4 separate regions of the Homo sapiens genome follow, and regions 1, 2 and 4 are each linked to region 3. The links come from fine-mapping of genetic effects on gene expression. A gene starts in region 3. Each other region holds a variant in brackets. All regions are shown on one strand. Distances are from middle to middle.

What was found. PIP is the estimated chance that this variant, and not a neighbour inherited with it, causes the effect.
Region 1: its variant is the best candidate, but not a certain one, in a credible set for the expression of TRG-AS1 in whole blood (TOPMed, PIP 0.78).
Region 2: its variant is the best candidate, but not a certain one, in a credible set for the expression of TRG-AS1 in adrenal gland (GTEx, PIP 0.90).
Region 4: its variant is the best candidate, but not a certain one, in a credible set for the expression of TRG-AS1 in whole blood (TOPMed, PIP 0.67).

The regions. Positions count from the first base shown.
Region 1 is chr7:38,290,420-38,293,169 of GRCh38, reverse strand. It overlaps TRG and the pseudogene TRGV11. Among named protein-coding and RNA genes, the nearest start is that of TARP, 18 kb to the right of the region's middle. The variant G/A (reference allele first, on the strand shown) is at 1,267.
Region 2 is chr7:38,390,417-38,392,916 of GRCh38, reverse strand. AMPH (amphiphysin) reads left to right here. Exons shown (of 21, transcript NM_001635.4): 19 at 900-1,169. Among named protein-coding and RNA genes, the nearest start is that of TRG-AS1, 50 kb to the right of the region's middle. The variant G/A (reference allele first, on the strand shown) is at 1,007.
Region 3 is chr7:38,339,831-38,342,580 of GRCh38, reverse strand. TRG-AS1 (T cell receptor gamma locus antisense RNA 1) reads right to left here and starts at 1,160. Exons shown (of 4, transcript NR_040085.2): 1 at 782-1,160. It also overlaps TRG and the pseudogene TRGV6.
Region 4 is chr7:38,374,041-38,376,790 of GRCh38, reverse strand. It overlaps TRG-AS1 (T cell receptor gamma locus antisense RNA 1), which reads right to left. Exons shown (of 4, transcript NR_040085.2): 4 at 1-1,234. Among named protein-coding and RNA genes, the nearest start is that of TRG-AS1, 34 kb to the right of the region's middle. RefSeq lists a silencer at 2,009-2,303. The variant G/C (reference allele first, on the strand shown) is at 1,229.

The DNA of each region.
Region 1 (2,750 bases), 49 kb after region 3:
TACTGAGCCCAGCATGCATTAGCTATTTTTCCTAATGCTATCCTTCCCCACACCCTGCCCGCCAATAGGCCCCAGTGTGTGTTGTTTCTCTCCCTGTGTCCATGTGTTCTCATCATTAAGCTCCCACTTATAAATGCGGACATGCAGTGTTTGGCTTTCTGTTCCTGCATTAGTTTGCTGAGGATAATGGCTTTCAGCTCATCCGTTTTCCTGTGAAGGACATGATCTCCTTCCATTTTATGGCTGCATAGTACTCCATGGTATATATGTACCATAATTTCTTTATCCAATCTATCATTGATGGGCATTTGGGTTAATACCATGTCTTTGCTACCGTGAATAGTGCTGCAATGAACAATACCAAGCTATTCTATTTCCAACCATAAATATGTTGAGAAAAATTCAAAGGAAAAGTAAATGATGGGTGCCTTTTGTTGTCAATTTTTATATCTCATTTTACTCAGATTTTCCTTAACGGATGACTGCTACTCACCTGAGTTCTTATGTTTACCAGCTCTGTGTTTTTGAATGAGTCACTCAAACTCTGTTTGCCGTTGTCCTCATTTGACACATGGAGATAATCATAAAACTTACTGCACAGGACTGTTGAGAGGATCAAGTAAAATAATATAAGAAAACATCTAGACAAGTAGCAAGTTGTAAATGGATATTAGATGCTTGTCAAGTTTCTTACTGCAGTTCTGAATTAACAGCTAATTACAGAAAGATAGTCATTGGGACAGAACACTGCAGGTTTATCTTCACATTTTCAAAGCCATATTTCTGCAATATGGTACTGCTGGGGAATGGGAGAGTGGGCAAGAGAACATCCCTGCCCCACCCCTAGAGGTACACATTCATACTAGGTATTTCTTTCCAGATAGTTAACCCACTTACCCGATCTGCCCAGCACTCATGGGATGCAGGAAACCCTGGAACTGCTCATAACTGTAGCAGCTCATGAAGAACCCTAAGGAACCACCTCATCTAGTACTTCTGAGAGACCTCAACAGCCCCGCCTTCTGCCACTGACTTGAGACCTCCAGTGAACAGGGTTACCTTCTCCCTGGGGAACCAGACTGGCAGAAAGCATGCCACTGGTAGTAGCTGTTATCTTCTTCTCCCTCTGGGTTTGTGAGTTGCCCCCTAATCATTTCAGTCTACAGAAGAGATTGAAGTCATTCTGTATTATTACCTCTTCACGTATCGTTGGCTTATGGGAATTTCTCTTCACTTGCAATTGCACTTGGGCAGTTGGAACAACCT[G/A]AAATATCTATTTCCAGACCAGCAAATAAGAGTGCCCACATATCTTGGAAGGCATCCATCCAAGGCTTTAGCAGTAAAATCATACACTGGTACTGGCAGAAACCAAACAAAGGCTTAGAATATTTATTACATGTCTTCTTGACAATCTCTGCTCAAGATTGCTCAGGTGGGAAGACTAAGAAACTTGAGGTAAGTAAAAATGCTCACACTTCCACTTCCACTTTGAAAATAAAGTTCTTAGAGAAAGAAGATGAGGTGGTGTACCACTGTGCCTGCTGGATTAGGCACCACAGTGTTAGAGTTGTCAAGATAACCTACACAGAAACTATCTCCGAGTCTGTGCCTGTCCACATCCTTCTCCATGTGGGCAACCACAGCGGTTTGCTCAGCTGGGTGCCCAGCCGGAGCCTGCCCTCCCTGCAGCTCTTCTGGAATGTTGCAGGAAGACATCTTAGATTCTGCTCCCTTGGTGTGCAGAATCACATTGGTGATTCATGGTGTCCAAACGGGAAAAGTTTTCTTGTTCCCTCTCAGGGCGTGCGATAAGGATGTGGCTCCCTTCTTGGTGCCCCTCTCCTCAAACCTCTAGGGGGAGCATGCACACGTGCAGGTTGTGGGGCTCCGACCCCACAGCAGTGTCTAGGGGTGAATGCTTATAACTCCTGAGGCCCCAGTGGGCCTGTGTTACAAGGTGTCCTTTTAGTTTGGCTGTCCATAGGTGACTTGCTTTAGCCAGCTCAATTAGACCCCCTGCCTTATTGCAAGGACGGAGGGCTTTCTGTATCCCTGGGTTTCTTGCCTTGGTGTACTGAAAGAATTGGATAACATGTGGGCTTGGAGAATGAGTGCAAGTTTTTTATTTTTGTTTTTGTTTTGAGACGGAGTCTCGCTTTGTCGCCTGGGCTGGAGTGCAGTGGCGCAATCTCGGCTCACGCAAGCTCCGCCTCCCGGGTTCACGCCATTCTCCTGGGCAGTCTCCCGAGTAGCTGGGACTACAGGCGCCCCCCACCATGCCTGGCTAATTTTTTGTATTTTTAGTAGAGACGGGGTTTCACCGTGTTAGCCAGGATTGTCTCGAACTCCTGACCTCGTGATCTGCCCACCTCGGCCTCCCAAAGTGCTGGGATTACAGGTGTGAGCCACCGCGCCTGGCCGAGTGCAAGGTTTTATTGAGTGGAAGTAGCTCTTAGCAGATGGGGGAGCCAGACGGGAGATGGAGTGGGAAGGTGGTTTTCCCCTGGAGTTGACTGCTCAGCGGCCAGGCTTTCCTCCAACCACCCCGCCAAACTCTGCTTTGTTCTGCCAGTCGATGGCCTGCAGCCCGCCAGTCTCGCCAAACTCTGCTTTGTTCTGCCAGTCGATGGCCTGCAGCCCGCCAGTCTCTGTAGGTGTGCTTTTCCACATTAGTGTTCCTCTCGATGTCCAGCCACTTGTGTGTGTGCCCACTAGGGTCTCAGGGGTTTTATAGGCACAAGATGGAGGCG
Region 2 (2,500 bases), 50 kb before region 3:
TTGTGGAGGTGTGGTCCCTCCAGCGGCCACAGCAGTGTGGGGCTGGAATGATAATCACAAGCGAAGGACTAGTGGATGATCTCCAAACCCCGGCTGGATCTTCATCAGCAAGCATGGTTCAGGCACTGGGGGCCTCCTGGGACTGGGGGAGGGGAGGAAGGGGCTCACAGGAGGTGAACTGCCAACCGCAAGAGTTAGGGTTCCGTGGGACAAGAACCAGGCTGGCCTGCGGGGCTGGGCGTGGTGGCTCACGCCTGTAATCCCAGCACTTTGGGAGGCCGAGGTGGGCGGATCACGAGGTCAGGAGATCTAGACCATCTTGGCTCACACGGTGAAACCCCGTCTCTACTAAAAATATAAAAATTAGCTGGGCGTGGTGGCAGGTGTCTGTAGTCCCAGCTACTCGGGAGGCTGAGGCAGGAGAATGGCGTCAACCCGGGAGGCAGAGTTTGCAGTGGGCTGAGATCGCGTCATTGCACTCCAGCCTGGGCGACAGAGCAAGACTCTGTCTCAAAAAAAAAAAAAAAAAAAAAAAAAAAGAACCAGGCCGGCCTGCATTGACTCCTCCTGCAATCCCTCTCAGGATGGCCTCCCTCACCCTTCAAGACTCTGTCTCCCATCCCCTATCCCTCCTCCCAATTCCCACCGAAACCTCATGCTTACCAAACTGCCTGGCTATTCAAGGATCCAGAAATTAATTCCACTAAGGGTTTAGGCCTCAGGAGGAACAGAAGGAGGCTGTGTGGCACAGCGGAAGGCCCAGACCTGAGTCTGGCTAGTGGGGAAGTATGGAAGTGGCAGCCCCAGCTTTGGGCTGGGGGCTAAGGCAGGTTGTGCAGGACAAGGAGGTTCTGTTTTCCAGGCCCTGCCGGGCATCGCCACGGTTTTTCTTCCCCCAGGAGAAGGTCATTCCTTCGGTGGTCATAGAGCCTGCCTCCAACCATGAAGAGGAAGGAGAAAACGAAATAACTATAGGTGCAGAGCCCAAGGAGACCACCGAGGACGC[G/A]GCTCCTCCGGGCCCCACCAGCGAGACACCGGAGCTGGCTACGGAGCAGAAGCCTATCCAGGACCCTCAGCCCACGCCTTCTGCACCAGCCATGGGGGCTGCTGACCAGCTAGCATCTGCAAGGGAGGCCTCTCAGGAATTGCCTCCTGGCTTTCTCTACAAGGTATTCTTATTTTTTAAGTCTCATTTATCCTTTTTTTGCTTTAAGGCCCTTTTGCTCAAGCCTTTGGTTTTCCAGTTTTTACTTTTACTTTTTGCAATTATTATTTCTGTGAACTGCTTTCCCTTCACCACAACATCACTTGGACAAGCCAGGACTACAGTAATAGATTTTCATGTTTTAACAAAGAATAATTAAAGGGAAGTTCACCACAGGGCAAACAGTATGCCCCTGGGTAATGAATGGGAGAGTCTTTTCCAGCCCTCCCTCCTCTCTACTCCCCCAGGTGCCTGTGAATCTGTGGAGCCTGGCTCAGACCAGGCCTTGGAATCACCAAGAGCTCCTGACTCGGCTATATCCCCTGGGGGTCGGGCAGCAATCCTTCAGTCAACTCTGGCACCTTGTAGGGTGCATGACACAGAGTAGGGAGCCCATAAATATTTGGTAAATTAATGGATTCATGTATGAATGAACTTGCACCAAAAGGCAGAAAAAAAAGGCGGCTAAGTTAATGGGAAGAAGGTTTTGCTCAGACAGGCTACTTAGAGCCTTCATAAACCAAAGGGTTCTTACCAAAAAAACTTAGTAAATACCTAAAAACACTGGCTTAACCTAAGTGTTTCCTGTCTCAGATGTTTCCTGATAGAATCTGAAAAGGAATTTTAAGTTTTTAAATTTGATTTTACATTTAAAAATCAGCTCTTTTTCTTCTAAAGTGTAAAATGTTGTATCATTCTCTCTCTCTCTCTCTCTCTCTCTCTCTCTCTCTCTCTCTCTCTCTCTCTCTCTGTCTTTGTCTCTCTCCATTAGAAAGTAACTGCTACCTTGCTACCTCTTGTGGGGACAGGGGTGGCTATAATGGATTTATGAATAAATTAATTTGGAGGAAAAGCTAAACCTCTAGATAAGGGGTTGTTTCCTGCCAGGTTCCGTTTTAACTGGAGCACAAGCAGTCCAAGAAGCCTTGTGCCAAGCACGGCTGGAGCTTGCTGGGCCCATTCTGGCCTCCTCACTAACTGTAGAATAACCTAAGGCACCCCATATAGACCCTCTCTCTGGGTATCAGTTTTCCAATCAGAAAAATTAATTTAGGGATAACATAATCCATTTCCAGCTCTGACAGCTTGTGATTCTATGAATATGCTCAATGGCAAAATACACACTTTAAAAGCCAATGTTTACTCTCAGGGGTGGAGTTGAGGGAAAGGTGGGAAAAATAAAATCAGCCATGACAGTAGAGTGATTCAGACTGGGTGACAGACGCATAGGGGTTCATTATGTTATTTCTTCTGCTTTAAAATATTTTTCTATAATAAAATTTTAAGGAAATCTTT
Region 3 (2,750 bases):
CACTGTAGCTTTATAGTTCTTTTCACATTCTGATGAAGTTTCTCTCATTTTTTTGTTTTAAGAATTTTCTGTGCATTCTAGTGTGATCTCAATCCTCTCCCTTCCCAGTTTTAAACCGTGAGACTTCTGTCCAGCAAGACTTTTTCACGCTCCAAGGCAGGCAAGCTTCCCTCCTTCACAGGGACCCGAGAACTCAGCTTTCAGAGCTGTTCCTGCGGAAGCCTCATGTCCTCCACGTGTGCTCCAGAGGCAGAGGGAGACCAACTGGAGCCCCTTCCCTTTCTCATTCCCAGCTGTGATGACAGCAGAAACTGCAAAATTTGAGCTAGGACAACACAACAACCAAGAGAGACATTGTTCTACATCTCATTATGCATATTTCAAACATGTGTCTCTATATACTTCTTACAGAGGTGGTGGTAATCTGTGCATGCCCTACTGAATTTTCACAATTATATTACTGTACTTGTTTTGTCCCCTTATTTCCATCTGTGAATCCAGGTGCACTGCAGATATTAGTCTGCTTTCTGAGGGTAGGGATGACAAATAAAATATACAATACCCAGGGAATTTGGAAGTTCAGATATATAACAAGTTTTTAGTTCAAGTATGTTCCAAATATTTCATGACATGGCACCCAGTACTACTTTAAAAACAAACAAGCAAACAAACAAACTTACACTCCTACTTTAATGAACAAAAATTGTCTAATAAAGAGATCACACCCACAGGATTACAGGCACCCCCCCCCCCGCCCCCCGCCACACACACACACATTTACCTTAGAGCAGAGTCCAAGGCCCACCAACACACATGATCCTCAGTCCTTTTAATAAAGAACATTCAACCCTCCTCAGAGTGGCCTTGGGCAGTTGCCTCCAAGTGTCCTTGCAGATGTGAAAAGGAAGTTGGTTCACAGCCCTAATCAGAGGCTTCCTGGCAGGACAAGGTCCTGGCATCAGCATTAGCTGCTGCAACTCTGAAGGGCAGGGTGTGAGCCTGCTGTGGGACTGCCCCCTCCTAGGGCTGGGCCTGCTGACTCCAGGGGTCAGCTTTCCCCATATCTGCACTCCCTCTGCTGGAGGCCTGAACTCTCCATGCCCCTGGCTCTCTTCTGCAGAGGGCCTGCTCTCAGCTGCCACAGAGGGTGCTGCAGAACTGGCCTGAGCAGAGAGGCAGGAGCTCCTCTGCAGGTCCTCCCAGGCACCACCCTTCTGGAAGGAAGGCGTGGGAGTCCCCTAAGACACATCCTCAGTCACTTCTCCCTGCTTGTGACTCAGGAAGACCAGCCTTCCCCACTGCCTTCTGTGCTAGGGATCACTTCCTTGTTGAGTGGGACCTGAGTTTTGAGAGGATCTTCTGCTCCTGTTCATCTGGGCCCTTTCTTTCAAGACCCCAGAGACGAAGGCATGTGGTGGGCCCTAGCCCTGCTTCTAGCTTTCCTGTCTCTTGGTAAGTGTGCTGCCTACAGAGAGGCTCACAGGTTGGGTTTTGTTTTGGATTTTTCTTCTTTAGCAAGGGACGCCATACTAAGGAATACCTCATTATATTTTATGTTGTTCCCATTGCAGCCAGTCAGATATCTACTAACTTGGAAGCGAAAATAAAGTCAGGCACCAGGCAGATGGGGTCATCTGCTGTAATCACCTGTGATCTTCCTGTAGAAAATGCCTTCTACATCCACTGGTACCTACGCCAGGAGGGGAAGGCCCCACAGCATCTTCTGTACTATGACATCTGCAACTCCAGGGATATGTTGGAATCAGGAGTCAGTCAGGAAAGCATGATACTTATGGAAGTAGAAGGATAAGCTGGAAATTTATACCTCCAAAACTAAATGAAAATGCCTCTGGGGTCTATTACTGTGCCACCTAGGACAGGCAGAGTGATTCAGACCTGCTCTACACCACACTGAATATCTGTCTTGTGGCTGCTTCTGGTACACAAGAGAGAGCCGTCCCCTCTCATTTCCTGCCCTGAATTTACTGTATTCTGTACAAAGAGAAACAGCTTAACTCCTGATCTCCCCCCTAATATTACACTCTCCTGTCAGCAGCTGTACCCTGTTCCCCACCCTCCCCCAGGACTTTCCTGAAGACTAAGCTGCCATCTCAGCTAAGCCTCAGCTAAGCAGCCTGGCTGAGAGCAAGGTTTTCTCAGCTCTCCTAGGACATGGGGGAGGCCCACTCACTCTGTTTCTTAGGGTCCAGCTGTGAAGCGAGATATTTTGGACAGCAAATGGGAAGGGTATTTATACTGAATCATGTATCCAATCATGGTCCAGAGATCGCAGCTGAGAGTGCTGCTTACTCCTTATGTCTATAACAATATAGGCAATATTATAAATACCACTAAAACACTAGGCCTAGATATGCAGTTAAACACTCTCTCCCTCTGCCCTCCCTTTTATTCTCTCTCCTTTCTTACTTCCTTGCTTGCTTTTATTATTTTTTCTTCCCTCCCTCCCTCCCTCCCTCTCTCCCTCCCTTCCTTCCTTCCTTTTTTCATTTCTTCCTTCCTTGCTTTTCTCTCTCTTTCTTTCCTTTTTGGGTACATAATCCGAATATTTTTTCAACAAAATCATTTGAAATAATTTTTCTTTACATGTTCATGCCAACATTGATATAGCTAGTTTATTTGTTCAGTTTTCATTTTAAAATTTTAGACATTTGTTGTATTATTTTGTTTTGTTTCATATTTGTTTTGCATATGTAAACTATTTACATGGAACTAAAGTCATAATTTTAACG
Region 4 (2,750 bases), 34 kb before region 3:
AAAGAAAAAGGAAAAGAAAAACAAAAAAAAATTATACAGCTGTACAAAATATTTTCTTTATATCCTTATTCTATAAACTGTTTTCTATTTTTAACATTTTCACTTTTAAAACATTTTTGCTAAAAATCAAGACACAGCCACACATTAGCCTAGGCCTACAGGGTCGAGATCTTCAATATCACTGTAGTCCAGCTCCACATCTTGTACCCACGGAGGGTCATCAGGGCAGTAACACACATGGAGCTGTCATCTCCTAGGACAACAGTGCCTTCTTCTGGAATTCCTACTGAAGGGCCTGCCTGAGGCTGTTTTACAGTTAACTTTTTTTTTTTTTACAAGTAGAAGTTGTACACTCTAAAATAATGATTAAAAAGTATAATATAGTAATTACATAAACCAGTAACATGGTCATTTATTATAATTTTCAAGTATGTACTGTGCGTAGCTGGATGTGCTAGACTTTTATACAACTGGCAGTACAGTAGGTTTGTGTACACCAGGGTCACCACAAATGAGAGTCGTGTTGTGATGTTATGATGGCTACGATGTCACTAGATGACAGGAATTTTTCTGCACCTCTATCATCTCATGGGACTGTGGTACATGCGGCCCATCGTTACTGAAATGTGATGAAGTGCATGACTCTAGTCTTCACAGATACGGAGGCTCTAAGGACAGATATCAAATACATTAGACTGGGCACCTATGGGGGAACAGGAATAGGGAATGAAGGAGAGAAAAGAGTAAAATAAAAAACAAACATGCAAAACTGTACATAACTGGCATGGATTAATGGTGATAATGTACCAGGCACTGAGAAATATGACAGAAAAATATGAGAATTAAGGTTTTAAAAAACAAGCAAAAAACAAGAAGATACCAAGCACTGATTTCAGGATAACTCCCTGAAGCCTCATATTTAAGCTTTGAGACTTAATTTTGGACAATCCAAAACAGTGGTTCCAATGAGTAAATCACAATTAGGGTAATCCAAAGAGCTCTCTTTCTTCAGTTGTCTGTGGAAAATGTGACATTTTCCTTCAGGTAAAATCCGTGTACACTGGCTGCCAGCACAGAGCCATCTGGCTGGCCTTGGCCGCTGGGCATTGGTCTTGGCTTTGTCCCACCCCCGCAGCAGCCTTCTTCTCCAGGATGGTCAAAGCTCACCCAGAGCAAAGATGCTCTGCACTCAGGAACACTGGATTCAGGCATTGATCCAAGCCCCCGT[G/C]CAGCTCTGTGATATAAAAATGAGAGGAGGGAGGAGAACTTGTCTTTTAGCCAAAACATTTTCTAAACCACAGGCAGTTACCATGTCCTTCAGAGTCAAGGCACATTAGGTACAAGGATTATTGATAATAATCCTTGTAATTTTTAAGACCACAAAACATTGAAACATTGAAAATTATAAATAGATAACATCAAAGCATGGTGGGAATTCTATTTTGTATGCATGTTTAGACTAAGGATCTTTTCTTTTTTTCCAGACTGGGCCAGAACCAAGTACCTGTAAGAATCAGCACAGTTCAGCCTTTTGTATCAATTGCAGTTGTGTCCATGTATGTGTGTGTGCATTCTTGGGTACATGTGCACACACCTGCATGTTACCTACACAAACCTCCGTGTTCCCATCCTTCTTAGGTGGGATTTTTGAACACTGCATTTACACTGGCCTGAAATAAGTTTGTTAAAGTCATCGGCCTCATGTAGTGGCCAGGCTGGGCTGCAAAGCCATTGGCTATCCAAACATTCAGAAGACCTTTAGGAATCAATGTTTTTGTTAAGGAGTCTATATAGAATAGGCTTTTCCTAGAGCAATGTTGAGTCAAGAGGAAGCAAATAACATGCATTATTGTTGGATCAAAATAAAAACTAGAAGCTTCCATTTTTCATTTCACCACACCTATTCCTTCAATATCCAGTTTATCAATTCAATTCAGAATCACAATTAGAACTAGAAGAGACCAAAAACATCACCCACTCCTCTGATTTTGAGGCGGGGGAAATGACAGCCCTGCAAGAAGGAGTCTCTTGCCTAAAACTATCAAGCACATAAGGTGTGCAGTTGGAACCTGCCTTGCATTTGGGGACCTTTCCATTCGTTATACGAAGTCTTTGCCATTCGTTGGGGTCTAATATTGGGGTAATATAACATGTATGGTATACCTCGAATGGCCAGGAGGGGGTGCTACAGGTTTGTACAAATAACTAAATGCAGTCAAAACACTACTTCTTTTAAAGCATGAAGCTGGGAGTTGAAATCAAATCGGAAATATAACATTTTGTATCAAAATGCAGCAGCTTCATGAAGACAGAAATTAATCCCTGAATCATAAACAGCCAAGCAGTTCCCTTATGGTACAGGCTCTGGAGACTTGTCTGTTTGGTTCAAATTCTTGGTGTGCTGTTTATTAGCTAGGTGACCTCGAGGAGTTATTTAACCTCTCTGTAAGCTTCAATTTCATCTGAAAAATGGGGATAAGTAACACCTATTTTCTGCTTGCAAGAAAAGAATAAATATATACAATGTTTGACACTCAAAGGGTATTTGCTATCATTTAATGGATCAAGAATTTCTGCTATGACTTTAAAAATTAGTCTTTTAATAAAAGGCCATTAACTATTTACTTAACAGTGCTAGAGGAAATTCCTATGACTTTTTGAGGTCCACCATAATTAACTGAATGAATACTATTCAACAGTATCTTAGGTTGTTTTCTTACTGGCAGCTGAGAGTGACCCTTGAGTTTCTA